2 separate regions of the Homo sapiens genome follow, and region 1 is linked to region 2. The links come from fine-mapping of genetic effects on gene expression. A gene starts in region 2. The other region holds a variant in brackets. All regions are shown on one strand. Distances are from middle to middle.

Evidence for each region.
Region 1: its variant is fine-mapped to the expression of C17orf58 in whole blood (TOPMed, PIP above 0.99). The same link has a PIP of 0.9 or more in blood mononuclear cells.

Annotation. Positions count from the first base shown.
Region 1 is chr17:67,795,008-67,800,378 of GRCh38, forward strand. No RefSeq gene overlaps it. Among named protein-coding and RNA genes, the nearest start is that of BPTF, 28 kb to the right of the region's middle. The variant C/T (reference allele first, on the strand shown) is at 2,952.
Region 2 is chr17:67,993,653-67,998,980 of GRCh38, forward strand. C17orf58 (chromosome 17 open reading frame 58) reads right to left here and starts at 2,817. Exons shown (of 4, transcript NM_001382359.1): 1 at 2,471-2,817; 2 at 1-332. The coding sequence starts at 2,546. RefSeq lists silencers at 33-292, 2,047-2,136.

The DNA.
Region 1 (5,371 bases), 200 kb before region 2:
GACTTTGTTTCCAGCAGTCATCCTCCCTCTCTTTGCTGGGGAAGACGCCCTGCCAGCTCCATGGCAACAGGAGCTGCATAGCTCTAGTCCTCAGAAGTCTCCCCGAGTCCACAGCCATCCAACAATCCCCTCAAAAGACTCTGAATAGAGGCCAGGTGTGGTGGCGCATGCCTGTAATCCCAGCACTTTGGGAGGCCAAGCCGGGTGAATCACTTGAGGTCAGGAGTTCAAGATCAGCCTGACTAACATGGTGAAACCCCATCTCTACTAAAACTACAAAAATCATCCAGGCTTGGTGATGAGCACCTGTAATCCCAGCAACTCAGGAGGCTGAGGTAGGAGAATTGCTTGAACCTGGGAGGTGGAGGTTGCAGTGAGCCAAGATTGTGCTACTGCAATCCAGCCTGGGCGACATGAGACTCTGTCTCAAAAAAAAAAAAAAAAAAAAAAAAAAAAAGACTCTGATAGAGCTGCCTAGGTCCTATGCCCATTCCTGAGCAACCTCATGTTCAAGGATGAAGTACTCTAACTGGCAAAGACAATGCCATGTGTAGACCAGAGGGTTTCATTTCTTCCTGGCTCGGGAGAAACTACATTCCCCAGGCACTCTCACATCTGGTGGAAGCATGTGACTAGTTCTGAACAATGAATGTGGCACAAGAGAGGCTTACGGCTTCTGAGCTGGATCCTAAAATGCACCCCGTTTCCCCCATCTTCCATGCTCTCTCTTTGCTTGTTCATGGTGGATGCATTCTCAGGTCTAATCAAGGGCTCCTAGGAAGCCCTAAAGAACACTGGAAGCGATAAAAGGAAGGAGCTTGGATTTCTGCTTAAAGGAAAGTCTTCTCATGTCCTCCCCCAACAACCTCCCAAAAAAACCCTCATTGAGCTGTGATATAACCAAGAAATAAACTTATTATTCTATTGAGCCACTGAGATTTGTAGTTAGTGGTTATCAATCTACTGTGAATAGATTAGTTCACATGCTCACTCCTGAGATAGGAGAGATGGGACTTTTGCTTTAAAACAAGGCATACTGGACAGGTGCGGTGGTTCATGCCTGTAATCCCAGCACTTTGGGAGGCCAAGGCTGGTGGATCACTTGAGGCTAGGAGTTCGAGACTAGCCTGGCCAACGTGATGAAACCCCATCTCTGCTACAAATACAAAAAATTAGCTGAGCATGTTGGCATGCACCTGTAGTCCCAGCTACTCGGGAGGCCGAGGCAGGAGAATCCCTTGAGGCCAGGAGGTAGAGGCTGCAGAGAGCTGAGATTGTGCCACTGCACTCCAGCCTGGGCAACACAGCAAAACTCCGTCTCAAAAATAAAACAAAAAGGCTGGGCGCAGTGGCTCATGCCTGTAATCCCAGCACTTTGGGAGGCCGAGGCGGGCGGATCATGAGGTCAGGAGATCGAGACCATCCTGGCTAACAAAGTGAAACCCCATCTCTACTAAAAATACAAAAAAATTAGCTGGGCATGGCAGTGTGCGCCTGTAGTCCCAGCTGCTGGGGAGGCTGAGGCAGGAGAATGGGGTGAACCTGGGAGGCGGCGCTTGCAGTGAGCCGAGATCGTGCCACTGCACTCCAGCCTGGGTGACAGAGCAAGACTCTGTCTCAAAAAAAAACCAAAATAAATAAAAAATAAAAAATAAGGCACACCAGAGCCATAAAGTGTAGGAGGGGCTGTTCCCAATGGAAAGACATGTGGGTCAGACAATAAAAGAGCAGATAAACAACCCACTTATCTTGAGTTTAGGAATCAGTCCAAAGGAAATAATCCAAAAGGAAACTAAATTATTTTAAATAAAGATGTTCATCGCAGAGCTATTTATAATAGCAACAGATTGGAAATGTCCCAAAAGCTCAAAACGTGGATGTGATAAAGCAAAGCACAGTTGATCAGTATAATGCACCCATGGATACATGGAACTGTGTATCAGAAACCTTGCTGAGTGACAGATGCTAAGCACAAAAGGATTTAGTCCTCTCCTTACCCCTTACAAAGGCGCTGGGGGTTGGGCCTCCTCTGGCAGCTGAATTGAGGAGTGGAATCCTCAGAACTGGGGGCCTGAATCAGGGAGTTCTCATTAGATCTGGAGGAGGAAACTGAGCCAGAAGTTGTTCAGCAAACTGGGCTTCACATTCATAAGAGACCCAGGAAGAGACATGGGATCAGGGTTTGGAACCAGGGAGAGAAGAGAAAACTTTGATCAGGTGAGGATCAAATTGGGAGGCAGGGAGGGTGCTTGGGCTGTCAGATGATGCTCAGGGCTGGCTTTTGAGGGTGGCTGGGCTGGCTAAGCAAAGGACCAGAACTGGGGCAGGAACCAAACCCTTCTAAGTCCTCCTCTGGGCAGGGCAGGGCAGGGCATCCCTTCACTCACCTGGTGAAATGCCTTTTTGTTTGTTTGTATGCTTTTTGAGATGGTGTCTCGGTCTGTCATCCAGAGAGAGTGCAATGGTGAGATCTGGGCTCACTGCAACCTCTACCATCTGGGTTCAAGTGATTCTCCTGCCTCAGCCTCCAGAGTAGCTGGGATCACAGGCGCATGCCACCACACTCAGCTAATTTTTTTTTTTTTTTGAGACGGAGTTTTGCTCTTGTTGCCCAGGCTGGAGTGCAATGGCGCGATCTGCTCACTGCAACCTCCGCCTCCCGGGTTCAAGCAATTCTCCTGCCTCAGCCTTCCTGAATAGCTGGGATTAGAGGCATGTGCCACCGCACCAGAATAATTTTGTATTTTTAGTAGAGACGGGGTTTCTCCATGTTGGTCAGGCTGGTCTCGAACTCCCAGCCTCAGATGATCTGCCCGCCTTGGCCTCCCAAAGTGCTGAGATTACAGGAGTGAGCCACTGCGCCCAGCCAATTTTTGTATTTTTAATAGAGACAGGGTTTCACCATGTTTGCCAGGCTAGTCTCGAACTCCTGACCTGAGGTGAGCCATCTG[C/T]CTCACCCTCTCAAAGTGCTGGGATTACAGGCGTGTGCCACTGTGCCTGGCCTGAAATATCTGTTTTGAGACAGGATCTCACTTTGTCACCCAGGCTGGAGTGCAGTGATGCGATCTCGGCTCACTGCAACCTCCACCTCCCGGGTTCACATGATTCTCTTGCCTCAGCCTCCCGAGTAGCTGGGATTACAGGTGCATGCCATCTCACTAACTTTTTATTTTTTATTTTTGTAGAGACGGGGTTTCACCATGTTGGCCAGGCTGGTCTTGAACTCCTGATCTCAAGTGATCTGCCTGCTTCAGCCTCCCAAAGTGCTGGGATTACAGGTATGAGCCACCGCACCTGGCCTAAAAGCTTCTCAGATGATTCTGATCTGCATCCCTTAGGTGCAAGCACTTAAGGTCCTAGCCGTTTGCTTATACGGTGGTTGATGATTTAGAAGGTACAAGGAATGGAGGCCATGGCTGATGTGTCAGTGTGTTTTAGACACGGGAATGTAGTGAACTCTATGCAAATTTTGCAGAATAAAGGCGGGTGGTGTCCTGTGTTTCCCAGTGGTCAGGAAGCAGAGCGTTCTCTAGAACTTAATTGACGCATTTCACCAGGCACCAGGTGGAAAGGTCCAGTACGGGGGATGAAACGTGACATCTTAGGATACTCCCTCCTGTACCATGATGGTGTGATGGTCACAGGCATGGAGAGGGCCCAGAGAGGGTATAGTAGCCTTTAGGACCATTGCTGTCTATCCTTATCCAGTGTACCTATAACTCAAGAACTGATGAATTTGGGAGACAATCTCTAGACCACAGGGCCACCAAAAGTTCCATGGGCCCATGTTTAGGATTTTGAAGGACGCCCAGTGGCATACTGAGTAGTGTCCTCCCCAGTCCCAGCACTGATGCGCAGTTTCCTACTGCCAGGACATTGATGGCTATACTGGTGGAGGAGGAACCTGTGCATTTTTCTTATTTTTTTATTTTTTAGATGGAGTCTCACTCTGTTGCCAGGCTGGAGTGCAGTGGCGCGATCTTGGCTCACTGCAACCTCTGCCTCCCAGGTTCAAGCAATTCTCTTGCCTCAGCCTCCTGAGTAGCTGGGTCTACAGGTGCATGCCACCATGCCCAGCTAATTTTTGTATTTTTAGTAGGGACAGGGTTTCACCATGTTGGTCAGGCTGGTCTCGATCTCTTGACCTCGTGATCTGCCTGCCTTGGCCTCCCAAAGTGCTGGGATTACAGGTGTGAGCCACCGCACCCAGCCGATCCTGTGCATTTTTTTAGCTTTGAGCAGGCTTGGATCTCAGCCAACTGGATGATGGCCTTGCAGAACTGTTTAGACTCACAGCAACAGAGCCGGCATGCCTGCAGAGTTCCCAGGCCACGGTGCTTTGGATGCGGGACTTCTCTGCCATCCCCTGCCATTGTGGTCTTGCTGGCAGGATATCTACCAAACAGTTTAGGCTGCTCAGCTCACAAATACGGGAAGCAAACTCTTTGAAGACTGCGAGGAGGCATGAGCTGAACCAAGTGTGCTCCAAGCACTCCTAGCTGTCAGGTAATGGGGAATGCCCCCCTTGAAGGCCACTTAGATCACTAGCAATGCTGTCTTCTTCACCATGAGGTCACTGACGTTAATCATCCAGTTTTCTTGCTGTGGAGTCACAGGAGAGTAAGTCATTTAGGCTGAAGACTTTTTTGTGTGTCCTTCTCCTGCCAGCTTGAGAAAGCTAGGGACTTCTTTTTTGTTTTTTGAGGCGGACTCTCGCTCTGTCGCCCAGGCTGGAGTGCAGTGGCGTGATCTCAGCTCACTGCAAGCTCTGCCTCCCGGGTTCACGCCATTCTCCTGCCTCAGCCTCCCAAGTAGCTGGGACTACAGGCGCTCGCCACCACGCCCGGCTAATTTTTGTACTTTTAATAGAGACAGGGTTTCACCATGTTAGCCAGGATGGTCTCAATCTCCTGACCTCGTGATCCGCCCGCCTCTGCCTCCCAAAGTGCTGGGATTACAGGCGTGAGCCACTGCTCCCCGGCCAGGCTGGGGACTTCTTGATACAAGCTGGATGAGCTTGCCTTGAGGATATGAGGCTAGGCTGACTTTAGGGAAGTCAGTTTTTGGAAAGAGTTCTCAATCTCTGAAACAAAGCACACAGTGAAGCTGGTAGCAAAGAAATCCATTTTTGTTTGTTTTTTTTTTAGAGACATCGTCTCATTCTGTCACCCGGGCTGGAATACAGTGCTTGATCATAGCTCAGTATAACCCTGAAGTCCTGGGCTCAAGTGATCCTCCTCCTTCAGCCTCCCCAGTAGCTGGGACCACAGGTGTGCACCACCACGTCCAGCTAATTTTTTTATTTCTATAGAAACAGGGTCTCGCTGTGTTGCTCAGGCTGGCCTCAAACTCCTGGGCTCAAGTGATCCTC
Region 2 (5,328 bases):
GGCGGGGAAGCGCAGGGCCCGTGAGCGCGCGCGTCGCGGGGCGTCCTCCGACGCGGGCTCGCGGCGCGGCGACGCGCGGTTCTCGGCTTGCGCCAGGCGCGGGCCCGGCGGGCCAGCGGGCGCGCGTGCGGCCTCCCGGAAGCTGGCCTGGTTGTCGGCCGGCGGTGGGGGCTTCCGGCGGCGCGGGTCAGGCCAGGCGCGGGCGGCGGGAGCGACCTCGGCCGCGCGCGGCCGCTGCGGGGCCTCAAGGAGTGGCTGCGCGCGGGGCCCCGGTGTCTCCTCCGCGCTCGGGCAGCCGCGGGAGTCCGGCTTTCTGCTGTGCGGCGGCGAGGCTGTGGGGAGAGAAGAGGAGAGGCGGGAAGGCGGTGGGGGAGGAGAAGCAGTGAGGGGAGGCCGTCGGGGAAAGCCGAGGAAGCCGAGAAGGAAGAAGAGGGAAGGGGAGGCTGAGACGGGAGGCCGAGAGGGGAAGGGAAGCCAGGAGGGGAGGAGGCCGCTAGTGGGGCAGGGGCGCTGCAGAAGAAGGGCTCTGGGAGGGGGAGAGGAGATAGAGGACAAGGGAGGCTTCGCAGGCACCTGCAAGAGGAGAGATGGGAGGGAGGCCCGGAGGCCTGGAAGTGAAGCAGGGAGAACCCGGACGCAGCGTCGCGGCCAAGCGGGGCACGCGCTTCCCAGGCCCCAAAGGAAGAAGGATACGAGGGTCTTGACCTCTAAGATTATAGCTTTTAAAATTACAACCCCCTATTTACTCTAAGACTAAACATGTCTTACAACACTGGTTAGATAACAAACTTTTTTGCCCTTCCTTTAATATATACGTATATGTGTGTATGTGTGCGTGTGCGTGTGTGTGTGTGTGTGTGTGTGTATATATATATATATATATAAAACATATATAAACATCCGCCTCTTTGCTATTTACAGTTTGTTGAGAAAGTACCAAGAGCAAACCCCAGGGGGAAAGGTCTCATATTACAGGTTCTCCTAATTCTTTAAGCGCCCCTGACAACAGAACTATTTGGTTTTCCCATCCATGTTTACACTGTCATCCCGGTCTCTGCAGAATCGAGCATTTGTAAGTGGATTTTTATCTGGCTTCTTGGACACCACTTACTGGTAAACCACAGCTAAGGAAGGTTTTAAAAGCTTGGCTGGGAGGCAGAGAGGCCCCTGGTTAAGTATAAAAGCACACGTCGCTTACATTTTTTTCCCCATTAGATGATGGAGGAAAGACTCCTAAATGGTATGGCATGAAAACAAATTTTTAAAATTATTAATGATTTTCCCTAGTTCTGCAGACAGGTTGGTGAGTAAACCTCAGCCAGCTTGGGAGCTGGGCACCTTTCCATACCAGTTACACAATTTCACCTCCTTGCTTGCCTGGGTCCCAGTGCCCTCCAAACAGGCAAGAACTAGCCTTTATTTTTCTCTCCCCTTGCATTAAAGAGATGGATCTGCCCATTTGCAGCTCTGGCAACACTTCATTTAAAGTTGATCAGTCTTGCCAAATCGATAATCTGCTTTAAAATCAGCTTTCACCCAGCAATAATAGCTGGTTAGAGTTCATGTTTTTGCAAAGAGGTTGATTCTGACTCATTATGTTGTTAAACGGTTGTGCCATGCACAGCTGAATAAAGTTCTGGTGGATATCCAATTCCTGACTGTCAACTGTTGACCTCACAACTGCTTCCCCATTGATATAACCATCTGTTGTCATGGGAAAGATTGTCTGATATTTGGGTTAAATGCCACTGAAGTCATTCAATTTCCATGTGGAAAAATAACCCAGAGTAAATTGCCCTGTGAGGTACGGAAACTGTTTTTCCCAGAGATAGCGAAGCCGACAGAACATCCAAATAAAAGCAAAACAAAAACACGATCCCCCAGAGAACCCCTCATTTCTTCACGGGCTGAGTAACTTAATTTCATTTCGTGCATGAAGTATAAGAGTGTGTGCGTGTTAGTTAAACCCCGGCTCAGGTGTCCCAAGGTTGTGCGCTGGGGCTGCGGGGAGAGCAAAGTGCCCGGGGCTGCCGGATTTCGGCCCCGCTTCCCCCCAGCCCTCCACAGCGCCCCCCGCAGCCCCTGCTCACCCAGTCGAGGGGGGCGGACCCCGCGGCGTCCTGCGAGCCCGGCCCGGGCACGGCTCCCGAAAGGCGCGCCACGACCCCTTTTGACACTTTCCCTCCTCCGTGATGGAGCAACTACTTAACATGCAAAGTTTTCCCCAGCCTGCCCGGCTTGCTCGGGATCATTTCAGTAGCTAAATTGGCTTCTTTCCGAAAAGGCTGCCAAGAGACACGAAACCTTGGGGACACACTTTGCTCCTTTATAAGACGAACGCAGACCCGGGGTGTCCTCTCTTGCGAGCTCTGACCCCCCTCCTCGTCCCACGTTTCACTGAGCCTCCTTCCCAGCTCCCCCCCACAGATCCCCGCTCCGCTCCCAGGGCCCCGCACTACACCAATCTTACTTTTTCTCTCCGCCACCGGTGCTTCGGGGGATGATCCGACGATCAAACAGAGGAGCCAGAAAGCTCTAGCTGTCATTTTTGCAGACAGGGTTCCCAGGCTCTAAAAGTGAGCCTGGTCTTTTGCTTGCTTTCTCTCCCCCAACCCCTTCTCCACACCCCCACCCCCGTTCATGCTAATGAGGGGCAGCCTTTGGGGAAACGGGAATCACTCGCTGAGCAGACCATTGGAACAAAACCGAGCCGCAGGGATTTCTCCCTCTTCCTTCCTAAGGAGGACGAGCACATGGCCTTGCAAAGTTGTCCCCGGGAATGTCTGTCCTGTGATCTGCGGGCGAGGAGAGCATCACAGCCTAAACTTTAAACCTGTGTGCGTTTGCGCGCTGGGGTGGGGGCAGCAAAGGGTGGGGTGACAAGTGCAGAGAATAAGCGTGTTTCGGGACTGAGGGACTGGGTGGGGGAGAACGAGTGACGGGAGCTTTTTTCTAGATTAGGTCAACAACAAATAGGAAAATAGTGCTTAAGACAGCGTGGGTTTGTGGAAGGGAGATTCCAGATGACAGAGAATGTATCCTGGAATGTGTGTGTTAGGCAATTTCTAGAGAAACCAAGTCACTGCTTCCTTAGTAAAACTGTTTCATTATATATCACAGCTCATTGTAACCTCTGCCTCCCGGACTAAAGCGATTCTCGTGCCTCAGCCTCTCAAGTAGCTGGGATTACAGGCATATGCCACCATGCGAGGCTAATTTTTGTATTTTTAGCAGAGACGGGATTTCACCGTGTTGGCCAGGCTGGTCTCAAACTCCTGACCTCAAGTGATCCACCCACCTTGGCCTCCCAAAGTGCTGGGATTACAGCATGAGCCACCACGCCGGGCCCAGAGGTCTAATTATTAATCAGAATGTTGCCTGTTGAGGCCAGGCAGGGTGGTTCATGCCTGTAATCCCAGTACTTTGGGAGCCCGAGACAGGAGGATCTCTTGAGCTCAGGAGTTCAAGACCAGCCTGAGCAACATGGAGAGAACCTGTCTCTACAAAAAATACAAAAATTAGCCAGGCATGGTGGCTCGCATCTGTGGTCCCAGCCACTTGGGAGGCTGAGGTGGGAGGATCACTTGAGCCTAGGAGGTGGAGGTTGCAGTGAGCCGAGATTGTGCCACTGCACTCCAGCCTGGGTGACAGAGAGAGGCCCTGTCTCAAAAAAAAAAAAAAAAAAAAAAGAAGAAGAAGAAGAAGAAGAAAGAAAAGAAAGAGGAGGAGCCAGGCACAGTGGCTCACGCCTGTAATCCCAGCATTTTGGGAGGCCAAGGCAGGCGGATCACGAGGTCAGGAGTTCAAGACCAGCCTGGCCAAATTAGTGCAACCCTGTCTCTACTAAAATTACAAAAAAGTTAGCAGGGTGTGGTGGCACACACCTGTAGTCCCAGCTACTCAGGAGGCTGAGGCAGGAGAATCGCTTGAACCTGGGAGGCAAAGGTTGCAGTGAGCTGAGACTATGCCATTGCACTCCAGCCTGGGTGATAGAGTGAGACTTTTGTCTCAAAAAGAAAAAAAAAAAGAGGAGGAGGAGGAGAACGAAGAAGAAGAAGAAGGAGAGCAGGGCCAGGTGTGGTGGCTCACGCCTGTAATCCCAGCACTTTGGGAGGACAAGGTGGGTCGATCACGAGGCCAGGAGATCCAGACCATCCTGGCTGACACAGTGAAACCCCGTCTCTACTGAAAATACAAAAAATTAGCCGGGCGTGGTGGCGGGCGCCTGTAGTCCCAGCTACTCAGGAGGCTGAGGCAGGAGACTGGCGTGAACCTGGGAGGCGGAGCTTGCAGTGTGGCGCCACTGCCCTGCCCTCCAGCCTGGGTGACAGAGTGAGACTCTGTCTCAAAAAAAAAAAAAAAAAAAAAAAAGAAGGAGAGGAGGAAGAGGAGGAGGAGGAGGAAAGAAGTTTGCCTGTTGAGCATTAAATCAAAGAAAATAAATTTGCTGGCTGGGTGCGGTGGCTCAACCTGTAATCCCAACACTCTGGGAGGCCAAGGTGGGCAGATCACGAGGTCAGGAGTTCGAGACCAGCCTGGCCAACATAGTAAAACCCCATATCTACTAAAAATACAAAAATTAGCGAGTCATGGTGGCGGGCACCTGTAATCCCAGCTACTTGGGAGGCTGAGGGAGGAGAATCGCTTGAACCCAGGAGGCAGAAGTTGCAGTGAGCCAAGACTGCGCCACTACACTCCAGCCTGGGCAACAGCACAGGACTCTGTCTCAAAAAAAAAAAAAAAAAAAGAAAAAGAAAAAGAAAAAAAAGAAAAGAAATTTGCCTGTTGAGCATTAAATCAAATTGCAGCTAAGGAGATGAGCTAATCTTCCCTCATTCAGGTGTTAGAGGAGTGAATTATATTCTCCATCCAAAAGAGTAAACCTCTACAGCCCCTGCAAAGCTTGGGTATACCAGAGTCAGGGTCTCCAGACCCTAGACAAGACCAGATAAACACTAGTAAATTCATGCCCTTGGGGCCCTGTTTATAGATGTCCTCAGATCCCCTTCTTTCACGTGCTCTTTCTTTAAGTCAAGTGGAATAAAATTCACTAGGCTTAAGATTTCTCAGTTACAACCACATCTCTAACATACCTTCTTACCATTACATTCAAATCACCCAGAACCTATTGGGGGTGTTCCCGAAACTCTTCTGTTGCAGGAATGTTGTGAATGCCCTGAAACCCACACCCTGAAATGTAGAGGCAGGGAGCAGGCTGGATGGCTCCCAGGGGCTCCCAGAGGCTCCTGGGGTGGCACCAGCTGGAAGAACCTGCCAGAGTCCAGTCCTGGGTCTTGGGCAGTGTCTGGCTTGAGCCTTAGAAATCAC